Linked DNA regions of Homo sapiens: region 1 is linked to region 2. The links come from fine-mapping of genetic effects on gene expression. Tissue or cell type: monocytes after R848. Region 2 holds a variant in brackets; the other region holds the start of a gene. All regions are shown on one strand. Distances are from middle to middle.

Region 1 (8,186 bases), 50 kb before region 2:
TGAAGCCACAGCCCAAGCTCTACATTGGCCCCTTTCAGCCACGGCTGGAGTGGCTGGGACATAGGGCACCAAGTCCCTAGGCTGCACACAGCACGGGGACCCTGGGCCTGGCTCATGAAACCACTTTTTCCTCCCTGGGCCTGTGATGGGAGGGGCTGCTGCAAAGGTCTCTGACATTCCCTGGAGACATTTTGTCCATTGTCTTAGTGATTAACATTCGACTCCTGGTTGCTTATGCACATTCCTGCAGCCGGCTTGAATTTCTCCTCAAAAATAGGATTTTGTTTTCCACTGCATTTTCAGGCTGCAAATTTTCCAAACTTTTATGCTCTGCTTCCCATTTGAAACTGAATGCCTTTAACAGCACCGAAGTCAACTCTTGAATGCTTTGCTCCTTAGAAATTTCTTCCACCATATACCCTAAATCATCTCTCTCAAGTTCAAAGTTCCACAGATCTCTAGGGCAGGGGCAAAGTGCTGCAAGTCTCTGCTAAAACATAACAAGAGTCATCTTTGCTCCAGTTCCCAACAAGTTCCTCATCTCCATCTGAGACCACCTCAGCCTGGACCTTATTGTTCATATCACTATCAGCATTTTTGTCAAAGCCATTCAAAAAGTCTCTAGGAAGTTCCAAATTTTCCTACATTTTCCTATCTTCTTCTGAGCCCTCCAAACTGTTCCAACCTCTGCCTGTTACCCAGTTCCCAAGTTGCTTCCACATTTTCGAGTATCTTTTTAGCAATGCCCCACTCTGCTGGTATTAATTTACTGTATTAGTCCATTTTCACGCTGCTGATAAAGACATACCCAAGACTGGGCAATTTACAAAATAAAGACATTTATTGGACTTACGGTTCCACATGGCTGGGGAGGCCTCATAATCATAGTGTAAGGCAAGGAGGAGCAAGTCACATCTTATGTGGATGGCAGCAGGCAAAGAGAGAGCTTGTGCAGAGAAACTCCCGTTTTTAAAACCATCAGATCTCATGAGACCCATTCACTATCATGAGAACAGCATAGGAAAGATGCACCATCATGATTCAATTATCTCCTATCCCACTGGGTCCCTCCCACAACAATGGGAATTATGGGAGCTAGAAGATGAGTTTTGGGTGGGGACACAGAGCCAAACCATATCAGTATATAAGACTGGGCCAGGTGCAGTGGCTCACACCTGTAATCCTACCACTTTGGGAGGCCGAGGTGGGTGGATCATTTGAGGTCAGGAGTTAGAGACCAGCTTGACCAACATGATGAAACCCTGTCTTTACTAAAAGTACAAAAATTAGCCAGGCATGGTGGTGGATGCCTGTAATCCCAGCTACTTGGAAGGCTGAAGCAGGAGAATTGCTTGAACCTGGCAGGCAGAGGTTGCAGTGAGCTGAGATTTCGCCAATGTATCCCAGCCTGGGTGACAGAGCAAGCCTCCATCTCAAAAAAAAAAAAAAAAAAAAGTATACAAGACTGATCTGTAGTGTTGTATGATGTATGATCTGTATTTCATTGATTTTTATTGTTGTATGAATATATTTCAATTTATCCATTTTCTTTACAGTTAACATTCAGATTGTTTACAGTGGTTTTTGTTTTGTTTTGTTTTTGGGACAGCATCTTGCTCTGTCGCCCAGGCTGGTCTTGAACTCCTGGCCTCGAACTCCTGGTCTCAAGCAATACTCCTTCCTTGTCCTCCCAAAGTGTTGGGATTACAGGCATGAGCCACTGTGCCTGGCCTTCTGCGGTTTTTTGATTATTCTCTGCTTTGTGGTATACAGATATTGCTGAAAATGTCGAAAAGGCCTGCAGATACCCCTTTGGGTAACAGTGATAAGAAAAAGAGGAAGCATTTATGTTTATCTGTGGCACAGAAAGTCAACCTTAGAGAAGTTGGACAGCAGTATAAGTGTGAAAATCTTACAAAAGAGTATGGGATTGGAATGACCACCATATATGATTTGAAGAAACAGAAGGAAAAACTGTTGAAGGTTTATGCTGAAAGTGATGAACAGAAGTTAATGAAAAGTAAAAAAACAAAACCAAAAAAACCCTCCCAGCACTTTGGGAGGCCGAGATGGGTAGATCACGAGGTCAGGAGTTCGAGACCAGCCTCACCAAGATGGTGAAACCCCGTCTCTACTAAGAATACAAAAAATAGCCAAATGTGGTGGTGCACAACTGTAATCTCAGCTACTCAGGAGGCTGAGGCAGAAGAATCGCTTGAACCTGGGAGGCGGAGGTTGCAGTGAGCCGAGATGGCGCCACTGCACTCCAGCCTGGGTGACAGAGCAAGACTCCGTCTCAAAAACAAAAAACAAAACAACCCCCCCCCCAAAAAAAACTACGTAAAGCTAAAAAAGAAAATCTCAATCATGTATTGAAAGCATAAATTCATAAGCATCATAGTGAACACATGCCACGTGATGGTATGCTGATCATGAAACAAAGATCTATTGCAATGAACTAAAAATTGAAGGGAATTGTGCATATTCAACTGGCTGGTTGCATAAATTTAAGAAAAGACAGGGTGTTACATTTTTAAAAAATCTGTGGCAATAAAGCATCTGCTGATCACAAAGCAGTGGAGAAATGTGTTGATGAATTTGCCAATATTTTCACTCATGAAAATCTGACACTAGACCAAGTCTACAAGATTGCTGAAACATCACTGTTTTGGTGTTATTTGCCCCAGATAGATACTAACTATGGCTGATGAGCTAGCCCATAAAGGAATTAAGGATGGGAAGGATGGAATAACAGTGCCGGCATGTGCTAATGCAGCAGGCATCCATAAATGTAAACTTGCTGTGATAGGCAAAAGCTTATATCCATACTGTTTTCAAGGAGTGAATTTCTTTCCATGCCATTATTCTGCTAACAAAAAGGCATGGATCAGCAGGGAAATCTTTTCTGATTGGTTTCACTTTTTTTTTGTTTTTGTTTTTTTTTCCTGAGACAAGGCCTCTCAAAGTGCTGGGATTATAGGCATGTGCCACCATGCTCAGTCCTATTTTGGGTCTTCAAAAATATTTCCATTCTGGATATCTATTCCTTTATAAGAAACCACTCCAATACTTATTACCTTAACAGAGCAATCATTTAATTATGTTCACGCTACTGTGGGTCAGGAAATTTGGACAGGCCTTGACTGAGTGATTTTTCTGCTCTCCCAGGTGTTGAATGGGGTCAACAAAGCTAGTGAAATTCCATCAGTTGCTGGATGGGATCTGAGATGGCTTCATTTACATGCATGGTGCCTGGTGGAGATGGCTATAAGGCTGGTCTCAGATGACCACCTCCCTGGCTTTACATGGTGCTCCAAGAGAGCAAGACAGGAGCTGCCAGTCTTCTTAAAGCTTAGGTCTGGAGTTGGCATAGTATCACTTCCATTGTATTCTTTGATCAAATCAGTCATAGGCCAGTCCAGGTTCAAGGGAGGAGTTTCAAAGCATATGCAGTCATTTTAGATCTGGTATATTTCTGAGATAGAGTATTTTCATGTAAATAAATATTCCTAAAGAAAACAATCTCACAAAGAAGTTACAGTCTCCTGACTTAAGTCTCATTTAAACTCAAGGAAGGCTTCAAATGCCAAAAAAAAAAAAAAGCAAAAGTTAAGAGGAATGTAATATAAAAGACACGTACAACTTTTTATGTCTTATTTACTCATTTATTGATTTATAACACAATGAACATTATAAATTGGTGTAGGTCCTCTAAAATTATGGGCAAAAATTTGTGTGATATGTCTGCTAAGACAAAACCGAGGCACAGTAACTTGCCCTTGGTCACATAAATAGCAGGTGGTGGGGCTGGAGACCTAGCATCCTGGCTTCAGAGGGAACAGTGCAGTGAGGCCCTGTTAATAAGTAACAGTCTGTCTGTAAATTCGGGATAAGAGTAGTCAGTGTCATCATGGGGATAAAATGAGCTAGGCTAGTCCAGAGCTGCACGTACAACAATAGGCGTTTAATAAATACAAGCTGTCAATGCTCAGCCTCTGTTGTATTCCAGGCTGTTCTATCTTTCGCCATAGAAATGTTGGTGTCATAAAGCGCAAGACCCAACAGGGGGTGGATGGGTGAGAATTTCAAAAGTGTAGCTAGAGCCAAAGCTGGAGATACTGCTTTCTCCATTGAACTCTTTATGGTCTAATCTTTCTCTTGAAATCGTACGCAAATGTTTCATTGTATTCCGTGATTCAATTGCTAATCTATTCATATACAACTGGTTTACCCCAAAGCTTTCGGTATCTTTTCTTTTTTTTGAGGCGGAGTTTCGCTCTGTCGCCCAGGCTAAAGGGCAGTAGCTCGATCTCGGCTCACTGCACCACTGCCTCCTGGGTTCAAGCAATTCTCCTGTCTCAGTCTCCCGAGTAGCTGGGACTACAGGCACACGTCACCACCCCCTGGCTAATTTTTGTATTTTTAGTAGAGACGGGGTTTCACCACATTGGTCAGGTGGTCTCGAACTCCTGACCTCAGGTGACCCACCCGCCTCGGCCTCCCAAAGTGCTGGGATTAGAGGGGTGAGCCACCGCGTCCGGCCTCTTGATGAAACCTTATTACAGAATAGATATTTATACATAATATGTAAAACGCACAGCTAAAACATTTATCTTACTAAAGTTGGTAGTAAAAACTTTTCAAAGTTACTATAGGGAAGTGCATTGTCCAGACGTGTAACCGGGAGGTACTTGGGTACCCCGCCTGCCAAGGAAACCAATATCGGATCCCCCTACTTTAGCGCCCCCGCCAAAAACCGAGCTCACACCAAAGCACCGTGGTTCCTCTCGATGTCAGCGGCCCGCCTGCCCTCGGGGCAGCACCTGGGCAGGCGTCGCACCTCCCGCCTCTGGGCGGGACGGAAGCAAAGCTCGCGCCTCCTGACGTCATCACCGCGCGCCACTGTCTTCGCCTTCTTGCACTTCGCGGGAGAAGTTGTTGGCGCGAATGGATCCTGAGCCTCGATAACAGATTCCTCAACCGGCCCACCCGCCAGCCAGCCAGCGCCTTCATCCTGGGGCTGCGATGGTGAGCCGCTGGGGGAGGCCGTGCGGCTCGGGGTCTGGGGGGGCTTTGCAGGCCTGGTGTGGACCGGGCACTCCTGGTATGCAGGGTGGGGGAGGATGGCGGTGGGTGGTTCCGGAGGCTAGCAAAGGCAGAGAAGGGGCCGCACACCGGGCACTGGACGCAAAACTTTCATTGCATCGCGGGCTCTGGCTCTGGGCGGCAGCCAGCGCGCAGGGATTTTGTTGCTACGTGTACTTGCACTTTCCCCCCGCCCCCCACTCTTGGGGGAAGGGAGAAAGGAAGAGAGGAAGGATGGTGGTTTTGGGACGCATTGGTAAAGTTATTTTCTTGTTCGGCGTTGCCCGAACCTCAGTTTGAGTACTGCCTAAAGCGTGGATTTCAAGCTTTGGGTCACGAGGGAGAAGAATGTAACAAACTTTTCTTTCTTAGGGAATATGTTGTGTAGGGCCTTAAACTTTTATCATTAACAGCTCAGCTCGTCTCATCTCCGCTCGTCATTAACGATCACCTGAGCGGTGTTGAGACCGAGGGCATGGAGAGGATATTTTATTTTGTTTAGATGAGTTCATAGGAGTCAAAAGGATAACATGGCTTACTAGGAAAAAGAAGTACAGCGAATAGAAACAGATGCAAGACATTTGACAGCTGTCATCCTCTTACCACCTGATGTTTAAAATCTGAAAAAAACCCAAGCCTCACTGCATAATTCTGGATAAAATGTTCAAACAAATTGAAAGTGAAATGATTATGCAGCCAGCAAAGCAGACATTCCTGATGGTATGGCAATGGATATGGCTCTGTGTTTGAAATATTTTTAAAGGACCATTTAAAATGTTCATTAAGCTAGAAGATACTTAACAATCCGATATAATTTTTTTCAATCATTGGTCAACGTGTCACAGTGACAACATTCTGGGGGGGGGCGGTGAAAATTTTATGCCACACTGGGAAACGTTGCAGGCCTTTGTGTTTCTTCTCAAAAAAGGGCAACAGTAATGATAGTAGCTACCTTGTACCAAGCATCTTCTTTAGGTCAATATGTGAACTGTTGGTTTTCCATGGTTTTTTTTTTTTTTTTTTTTTTTCATTTCAACCCACATCGATGCAGTTTTACAGATGGTGCAAGCACCTTTTTGGAATTTAAACAGTGTATCATATAACTAGTAGGTGGTTGAACTAGAATTAGAATCTTGGTGTTTCTGACCACCATGTTATACTACTTCCCTATAATGATCATCATTACATTTTGGAGGCCAAAGCACTGTGGTATTTTGGAAGCTTGAGACTTGGAGTCTTGAAGATGAAGAACGTGGTAATATTTTAGTTTAATGGTTTATATATTAATTTATAGTTATATTACTATGTTAGTATAGTCTAGTTTAATAGTTACGTGGTCTTGGGCAAGTAAATAGCTTAAGTTTAATCTCTTTAAGCCTCTGTTTCCTTATCTGTAAAAGAGGGGAAAATAATAGCTGCCATAGTGATTGTTTTGGGGATTAAGCAAGATGTATAGGTAAAGCTTCCGTTCTGGTTCTGGTGCCTGGCATGTTAGGCAACTACACAGCTACCAGTGATCTATTTTCTCAGAAAGGACTCTATGGAAAGTTACATAGATTTTAAGAGGCATGGTAGATTCCTCTGTCATTTATGGTGAACATAGCTTGTGTGGTCAACTTTTGATCATTCAGGTGCTTTTACTTTTGGTTCTTTTCTTTCTTTAGTACTCCTGTTCATGGTGCAGATAAAAAATAGACCTCTTCTCAGAAAAGAAATAGGTCAAATTGGTCAGTTTTGTTGTTAGTGGGTAAACATCCTATGAGGTAGATAAGAATTTTGTATTATACTGATATTTAATTTAGCCCTCCAGTCTCTAGTGCAACAATTAGCAAAACCCTAGACTAAAATTGATTCAACAAATGTTTATTGAACACTTGTGCAAAGTTATAAGACAGTAGTTCTTTTTTTTTTTTTTCCCTCAGACTGTGTCGTTGGGTATGAAGGACAGTAGTTCTCAATCTTTGTTTCAGTTACAGTTTCCTTTGATAAATACAGTGAATGATATGCAAATTTTCTGCCCAGAGAAATGCATATGGGCATATACACACCATTTTAAGGGATTGACCTATCTTCTTCTTCTTTTTTTTTTTTTTTTTTTTTTAAAGGCAAGGTCTTGCTCTGTTGCCCAGGCTGGAGTGCAGTGGTGTGATGATAGCTCACTGCCATCTCTAATTCCGGGGTACAAGCGATCCTTCCACCCTGGCCTCCCAAAGCATTGAGATTACAGGCATGAGCCACTGTGCCTGGCCTGTTCACTTATCATCTTCTTCTTCTTCTTCTTTTTTTTTTTTTTTTGAGAGTCTTGCTGTTTTGCCCAGGCTGGAGTGCAGTGTGCAGTCTTGGCTCACTGCAACCTCTGCCTACCAGGTTTAAGCGATTCTTGTGCCTCAGCCTGCCTGGTAGCTGGGAATACAGGTGTGTGCCACCATGTCCAGCTATTTTATTTTTTTATTTTTAGTAGAGATGAAGTTTCACCATGTTGGCCAGGCTGGTCTTGAACTCCTGGCCTCAAGTTGATCCACCTGCCTCAGCCTCTTAAAGTGCCGGGATTACAGGCATGAACCACTGTGCCTGGCCTATTCACTTATCTTCTGAAGCCCATCCATAGACAGCTCTTGCCCTGGGAGCTGCATTGAAAACAAAAATTCCAATTAAAAGTTATCAATAAAGAAATAAAGTACGTGTATTCACACAATGGAATACTGTGCAACCTTTATAAAAATGAGAAAACTTTATACTCTGATATGAAACAATTGCCAAAATATAAAATTTCTCTGGAAAGATACAGAAGGAACCAACTGATAACATTTGTTGCCTCCAGAGATGGGAAATATGTGTCTGAGAGGCAGGATAAGAGGGGGACTTTTTACCCTTTCGAAATTTGAACCACGTAAATAAATAGAAAGAAAATTAAAAATAAAAGAAATAAAGAAGCCATGTAGACAATTTGAATTTCACTGAGATTTAATTGTTTGCACAAAACGTGAATAAAACCTGAGAGATGCCATTTTTAAGAAGTCAGCATATATAATTAATTGGTTGGTATAATTATTGAAAATATGCATAAGATTGAATTAAACACACATGAGACTTAAGGAACA
Region 2 (8,186 bases):
GAGAAACGTTTTCATCTGTCCAAGCCAATTTAAGTAAAGCAGAAAAACATAAATATCCTCATAAAGGTAATACTAGCAGAAAAAAGTAAGATGGAGCACTTGTCTTCATGGAAGTAAATTCATGATAATCTTGTTTAAGTATCCTATTCAGTAATTATGTATTGTTAGGTAGACATTATTTCACAGGACTATTAGAGCATATTGAACTTAGAAACTTTGAAAGCTCTTTGGATGCTAGCTGGTACAGAATGCCCATCTGCTCTATGATTACTGTGAGAATTGTGTTAAAACTCCTGGCTTCTTGTTAATTTCCAAGTATAGTGCAATATGTGGATTTCAATATATAAAGATGAAGAACCTAGATGTTTTGAGCTTTTCATGTCAGAGGTAGTCTCAGAGTTGACTCATAGTTGGCCAGGTCATCTTCAGCTCTCTTGCTTATTGCCTGTAGGTTTTATTCTTCAGTGGTTCTGATAGCAAATCATCTGCTAGTCTAGATGATCTTAGTCCTATAAGTAAATGTATTTATAGATTTACTATAAACAGATGGTCTTGACACTTTAGGACTTTGGGCCTTCAGGGTATATTCTGTGCTAAGATTACTCAGTTGAAAAATGAAAGAAAAGTTGATATAGATTATCATTTTCCAAAAACAACAACCATAATCTTTTCTTTCTTCCTAGTAAAAACAGCACAAGTTTCAGATGAAAGAAAGAGCTACAGTCCTAGGAAGCAAAGTAAATATGAAAGTTCAAAAGAATCTCAGCAACATTCCAAGTCATCAGCTGACAAAATAGGAGAAGTCTCTTCTCCCAAGGCCAGTTCTAAGCTGGCAATTATGAAAAGAAAAGAAGAGAGCTCTTATAAAGAAATAGAGCCTGTGGCCTCAAAAAGAAAAGAAAATGCCATTAAATTGAAAGGAGAGACAAAAACTCCTAAGAAAACCAAAAGTTCTCCAGCTAAAAAAGAGGTAAGAACTTTGTTTTTTTTTTTTTTTTTTTTTGAGATGGAGTTTTGCTCTTGTTGCTGAGGTTGGAGTGCAGTGGCACAATCTCGGCTCACTGCAACCTCTGCCTCCCAGGTTCAAGCAACTCACCTGCCTCAGCCTCCCAAGTAGCTGGGATTACAGGCATGTGCCACCATGCCTGGCTAATTTTGTATTTTTAGTAGAGACGGGGTTTCTCCATGTTGGTCAGGCTGGTCTTGAACTCCCGACCTCAGGTGATCTGCCCACCTTGGCCTCCCAAAGTGCTGGGATTACAGGTGTGAGCCACCGCGCCCGGCCTTGGTAGGAACTTTCTAGGGAGTACAGTATTCCCCCTTATCCATGGTTTTGCCTTCTGAAGTTTCAGTTACTTGTGGTTAATCATGTTCTGAAAGTATTAAATGGAAAATTCCAGGAATGAACAATTAATAAGGTTTAAATTGGGTACTCTTCTGAGTAACATGATGAAATCTCTCTGGCCAACCTGCTTTATCTCACCCAGGATGTGAATCATCTCTTTGTCCAGCATAACCATGCTGGATACACTACCCACCCGTTAGTCACTTGGTAGCCGGCTTGGTTATTAGATAGAAAAAACAGTACATGTAAGTATATATATAGTTTGGTACTGTCTGTGGTTTCAGGCACCTACTGGGGTGGTCTTGGAACATACCCTCCTCGGATAAAGGGGGACTGCTGTATATATTTTGGTGCTATGTGTTAGTCTGGGTTTGTTTTCAAGTTTTATTTCTAACGATCATAAGTCATTATAATATTTTTAAGATATCTTATTTAGAAGCTGTTGTAGGATATGGAGTATTAATATAGCTAAGTAAGCCCATATTTATTGTTATTGTGTGTCAGATACTGTGCGAATACTTTACATGTGGTAGCTCATATAATTTTCACAACAACCCTGTGAGATATTTATTTTTATTATTCAACTTTTAAAGACGAGGAAACAGGCTGAAAGAGTTTAACTATTCTAAGATCATCCACCTGGTAAGTGGCAGGGCCAGCCTTGAACTCAGGTCCTCTGAAGCAGTATAACATAGTGGCTCCACACACAGGCTCTGGAGCCAGTTTCAGGCTCTGGGACTCTGAGCAGGTTTGGTCACTTCCCCTGTCTGTGCTTTGGTGCTGTTTGTAAAATAGGAATAATAATAATAGTACCTAATGACTTCATATGTAAAAGCACTTAGAGCAGTGCCTGGGACCTAATAAGTGCCATCTTAACTATTATTATTAAAATGATTGTTATTTGGCTTAGTCCTAAATTTACTCTTTTTTATTCTTGTACAACAGTGTTGCGATACTGAAATTATTTTTAAAGGAAAAAATGATGAGATAATGAATATCTTTGAAAAATTTTGCTAGGAAATATATTTGAGAAGCGAACGGTCTCTGAATCTCCAATTTGGAACTACTTTAGATTCATAATGAGAAACCACTATTCATTCATGCCTCTTAGGCACTTAGGATTAAAAGCAGAATATCACCTATTTTAACTGGTCATCACCATTATATTTTAGTGCAGAACAGTGAAATGGTGATGATTTCAGAATGCTTTTGTTTGTGGACAATGCTTATAAATACGCTTAAAGGAGCAATTAACTTTTTGATCTCAGATTTTTTCTGCACTAAATGCTTATCTGGTAAATGAATGGTTTTCTTCAGGCACACTAAAACATGTTCCATTTACAGAGGCAGTCTGTTTTTATGAAGAAAGAGGAAATCTTTAAATGATACTCTTCACTGTACTTTTTAAAGTTAGAATAGAAATAACTCAAAACTTTTACTTAAGCAGTTTTGGTTGGAAACGTCAAATAAAGTCTATTTAATACATTTAGTTGGTCTTGGTCAAATAATTCTGACTTCATAAAGTGGGTGTCCTTCAAAGTTATTGTATACGCTGTTTACCATTCAGAATTCTTTTCATAGAATGAGTGTCGTAAATTAATCGTTTTTCCATGTTGGTATGCACTGGACTCTCTTGTGAAACTTGTTAAAAAAATGGAGTTTCCCAGGGAATGTGGTGTGGGCAGCTGTATTTTAATAAGCTCCTCATATGATATGAACACACACCAACATTTGAGAACCATTGTTAGAAAGTAGGGTTAGATTCTAGGACCAGCCTGTTAATGGCTTATCGACCTCTTAGCCAAACCAGCTGAACTATTTTATTGGTTAAGCCATTCCTTTTTTTTTTTTGAGACGGAGTCTCGCTCTGTCACCCAGGCTGGAGTGCAGTGGCGCGATCTCAGCTCACTGCAAGCTCCGCCTCCTGGGTTCACGCCATTCTCCTGCCTCAGCCTCCCGAGCAGCTGGGACTGCAGGCGCCCGCCACCAAGCCTGGCTAGTTTTTGTATTTTTTTAGTAGAGACGGCGTTTCACTGTGTTAGCCAGGATGGTCTCGATCTCCTGACCTCGTGATCCACCCACCTCGGCCTCCCAAAGTGCTGGGACCACAGGCGTGAGCTACTGCAGCCGGCCGCCATTTCTTTGTATAGAAGTTACTATTTTGTCTACTCTCAAAAGGATTTGGGATTGCTTACAAGTTAAAAATAATGTTAAAATAGGAAGTGGAAAAATAACAAACACCTGATAGTGGTTCTTAAATGAGAGCTATCTAAGATATTTTTCCCCCACATAAACACATTCTAGCCATACCCCATATCTCCGAAAGAGAAACTTGGAGGTGGATCTAGGGATGCATAGTTTGAAAAGTTTCCCCAGGATTTTCTGAGATATACCTATGGTAAATTCCCCGAGAGAAGTAGAATGGGAGGAGATGAAATAGCATAGAGAACGTGTCTTCTCTTTGGAGTAAAGCTTGTACCTTCTTTGAGCTGACTGTTTAGATTCTCCTACTGGAATGCTTATGTCCTTAGGGATGCAGGCTGGTGCTTTAGGGGCATGGAAGGTCATAGGATTAACACAGAATATCTTCTCGGGCGATCAGGTTTACTTGGGGAAAAAATGTATTTTCCCGTTAAACATGGATATATGGATATATCATGAAATATAATTTAAAATTCAGGTGAATTCCTAAAGTAAAACACTTTTTGCATTTCTTTGCTTGGAGCTGGCAACTTGGCTTATTCCCATAATCTGCCCTGAGGTGTGTGGCTTTAGAGAGTGGAAAGTTTTGAGAAGCGCTGATGCAGGGATGTTCGTAAGTCAGTTGTCTGTAAGTTAGGAAGTACTTGTGTAGCTAAAACTGTTAATTTCACAGCCAGACACAGAAGTGACACAATAAAAATAATGTTTATTTCTAGATATGTATTTTAAATTTTGCATGAATTCTGTATGACTTTGTTCATTTTCCTTTCCCTGTTCCCAAAGTCTGTAAGTCCTGAAGATTCTGAAAAGAAACGCACTAATTATCAAGCTTATCGAAGCTACTTAAATCGAGAAGGTCCCAAGGCTCTGGGCTCCAAAGAAATACCAAAGGTAAGAGTACTGAGAGGGCATGCCATTCTGTGAGGGCCTCTGCCGTATGGGTCCATGTATGTATTCACGATGATTATAGCAGCAGAGGATTAATAATTAAAAATGAGCAACAGAAAAGCTTCAGTTACTGTCTTCAAGAATTAGGGATGTTTATTCATGTTATGAATCACTGCTTGATACTTAGAAAAATTTCCCTTTAAATAACAAGTAGCCCTAGAAAGGCTGAGCTTTGAGACTATACCAGTGACAAAACTAATGTTTTTGCTTGCATGGCACTTATAGCCTAAAGAAAGAGACATTAAATAAATAATTTAATTATAATTGGGATATGTGCTATGAGGGAAAAATCTAAGATGCCCTTAGGTAGTATAACAGAGGAACCTGGTCCTTGGTGGGGCATGTAGAATGTGACATTTAAATGGAGACTTGAAGAATGAAAGGGATTCAACAGGTGTGAAGGG[G/T]TTGTGATGGCGTGGTGGTCTGGGCAGAGGGGCCAGAATGTATGATGTTCCTGCAGGGGGAAGGTTCTTGCATGGTATGTTTGAGGAACTGAAAGAAAAATTATGGTTGGAGCATAGTGACCAAGGGATGAGAATGGCCAAAGAGGTTAATAGGATCACATCTTGCAGGGCCTAATGTTTAAGACTTTTGTCTAAGAGAAGGAATTTTTATTTTGTGTTTTTGAAATGGAGTTTTCGCTCCTGTTGCCCAGGCTGGAGTGCAGTGGCGCAATCTCAGCTCACGGCAACCTCCACCTCTTGGGTTCAAGCGATTCTCCTGCCTCAGCCTCTGGAGTTGCTGGGATTACAGGCGTGCGCCACCATGCCTGGCTAATTTTGTATTTTTAGTAGAGATGGGGTTTCTCCATGTTGGTCAGGCTGGCCTCGAACTCTCGACCTCAGGTGATCTGCCTGCCTTGGCCTTCCAAAGTGCTGGGATTACAGGCGTGAGCCACTGGGCCCGGCCGAGAAGGAATTTTAAAGTGGAGGGATAACATGACCAGATTTGAATTTCTGAAAGATCGCTCTGGCTGCTGATGTACCAAGTGCTGTGGATGGGGCAGAAATAGCTACACAGAGATCATCAGGAGAGATGGTGAGAAGTGATAGGGACTGGTCTGGGGGAGCAGTGAAAATGTCGAAAAGTGGAGAGGTTTCACTAGAAGAGGCAAAATCTATGGGACTTGGTGATAATTGAAGTGGAAAGTGAGAAGAAAGAGTATTGGGGATGATCTTGTTATTGGCATGAGCAGCTTGGTGGATCATGCGATTGGTGGCAGGGCTAGTTTGGGGAGATGATAATGAGTTCGTTGTTGGCCACACTGTGCTTTAGGGTTATGTGAGATGTCCACATGGAGATGCTGAGTAGACAAGCAGATATGTGGGACTGGAGCTTAGAACAGAAGTCAGAACTAGATGGACAAACTTGGGCATTCTTGGCATGAAGGGATTAATAGCATCTGGTAAACTAGTACAGAACAAGAAGAGAAGAGGGCCTTGGCCCCTGCTTCTTTGTGAAGTAGAAGAGGGTGGAAACCAAAAGGAAACTGAGAAGTAGCAGCTACAAATATGGGAGAGAAGTTTGATAAGCGTGGGATCACAGAAGCAAAGGGAAGAGAGAGTATTTCAAAAATGATTGAGTAGTTAAGTCTGTCATGCTGTTAAGATTCCAGGTAAGGGAAGACCGGAAATTGTTCCATTTAGTAACATGAATTAATGATCCTTAGTGGCCTTAGCAAGAGCTAAGGACAGTGGAGGCAGAGCCTGATGGAAGCGGGTGGAAGAGTGAGTGTGAGGAGACAAAATGGAGACAGCAAAAGTAGATATTTTTGATAAGTTTGGCTGTGAAGGAGAAAGAAGTGGGAGGACTTCTAGCTAGAAGGACTAGAAGGGGAAGTGACTTCTAGCTAGAATGGAAAGTGGAATTTAGGGGGAGATTTAAGTATTTTTATGGTAGGAGATATTTAAAGCATGCGTTTTGCTAATGGGATAGATCCTACCAGAAAGGGAGAGATGGAAGTTATACCAGCAGGAGAAGGAGAATCAATTGTAGCATGAGATTTCTAAGAAGGCAGGAGGGGAGGGGATAAGTATACAATATATGTATAAATTTAATTTTCAGTTTGCTTGGTATATATAAGTACATATAGAGATTAATAGCTCCCCTAATAAAGAGAGGGAGAGATGGTGTAGCTGGGACCGGAGTGGGGAGCGAGAAGGTCGGCCTTAAGGGGCTTATGGGTTTTATGGGAGCCTGCAGGAAGATGCCAGTCTTGCCTCCTGTACATGGGTATGAGAGACCAAACAAGTTCTGCTTGAGAGGACTTCAGTCAAAGTGGTGCCCTGAGGGGACAGACAGGTTTCAGTGAAGGCAAGGCTATGGAGGGAATGTTGGAGAAGAGGTTGAGGATACTAGGGGTGGCTGGCTGCTCCTGGAGTAAGAGCTTAGCCAAATTCTAGAATAGAAGAGTTTGATAGGGAGGCTAGAAGTGCTAAGATTGGATAAGTAAAAAGATAATCAGAGCCATAGTGGGTGATAATTTGGGAGATAATAGATGTTTGGGATATGGGATATAGGGGCTTGCATGTGCAATTTTTCCAGGGTTGTTTTGAGTTTGTTCAGAAGTAGTTAAGTTCCTGTAGTGTTACAGTAGATCATTTCAATCCAAGAACCCATAAAGGCTTCAAGGGACCCTGAGATATTGTTAGTCAAACCTTTTCTTTCCAAGCACCTTCATAGCTGTTTCTTTTTGTCTTCCGAGAAAGATTCTTCATCTGAATGGTGAAGGATTGAACTTACATGGAGGCAGTCTTTGAATTTTGGTTGGCTGCTGCTTTTCAAGCCCATTTTAAGTTTATTAATCTCAATTCTCTATTAAAAGAGTAATAAGTAACTTGGAATGTCATGTATAATTTTCATTTTGTTTGGTTGTATAATTTTATTGAACCATTGCAAAAATATATAACTCAACATAGTTCCAATTAAGATTTAATGTCTTTTCCATCCAGCTCTCTTTGGCAAGTATCTCTTATATTATACATTATGAGAGTTATCTTTCCAATCCAGAGATAATACGATCTTGCCTTTAAGTTACTAGAAGATTGCTAGATTTACTATCCTAGAGTAATGAGCAGAGAGGAAGGCACGAGCTCACACTTGCTTAGCTTTTTAGAATCAAAACTTTCCCTTTTTAACAATAGCAAGAGTTGCCTTTTTTCCCTTTTTTCCCATAAAACAGTAAAAATTTTTTATTAAGCATTATAAGTTGCATTCAGTAGCCTTCAGATATGCCACACCACAATCCATTGGCAGACCATCCAACCCAGCAGCAGTTTGTTCTTGTACAATCCATGAGTTCGGGCAAAACTCCCTTCAACTTACAGTTAAGATCCTACTTAGCTCTTGCGGGCAGGGATTGGGGAATTAGACCTCATTTCTGATCACTAATGTGGTGAAAAGCATCAGAAGTATTTGAAAATGATAAGAAGTGATTCTGATTTTAAAGTACATTGTTTCGAAACATTAACAGAAACATCAAAATGATAGGAGTATACCTGCTTCTATTAAATTCTTGTTGGGAAAGTTCTTAAGAACAAGCAGTTTCCTGAATAGCAAGAGTTTCTACAGATGGATTGCATTTGGTTGTTTATTTATAGTTATGCAAGTTAACTAGTAGTTTAGATATGAAGAGGGCATAATGGAAAATAGTATGAATGGGTAATTTTAATAGCTTTGCTAACAGTGTTGG

Direction of the effects. Alleles are on the strand shown, and positions count from the first base shown. SD is a standard deviation of normalised expression in the study named.
As copies of T replace G in region 2, the expression in monocytes after R848 of the gene that starts at base 4,905 in region 1 goes up (large effect, 2.1 SD a copy in Quach 2016).

Evidence for each region. PIP is the estimated chance that this variant, and not a neighbour inherited with it, causes the effect.
Region 1: it holds the start of RFC1, and the variant in region 2 is fine-mapped to the expression of RFC1 in monocytes after R848 (Quach 2016, PIP 0.95). The same link has a PIP of 0.9 or more in monocytes after LPS.

The regions. Positions count from the first base shown.
Region 1 is chr4:39,363,081-39,371,266 of GRCh38, reverse strand. It overlaps RFC1 (replication factor C subunit 1), which reads left to right and starts at 4,905. Exons shown (of 25, transcript NM_002913.5): 1 at 4,905-5,028. The coding sequence starts at 5,026. RefSeq lists an enhancer at 4,864-4,983.
Region 2 is chr4:39,313,167-39,321,352 of GRCh38, reverse strand. It overlaps RFC1 (replication factor C subunit 1), which reads left to right. Exons shown (of 25, transcript NM_002913.5): 8 at 1-66; 9 at 684-970; 10 at 4,331-4,438. Among named protein-coding and RNA genes, the nearest start is that of RFC1, 49 kb to the left of the region's middle. The variant G/T (reference allele first, on the strand shown) is at 4,900.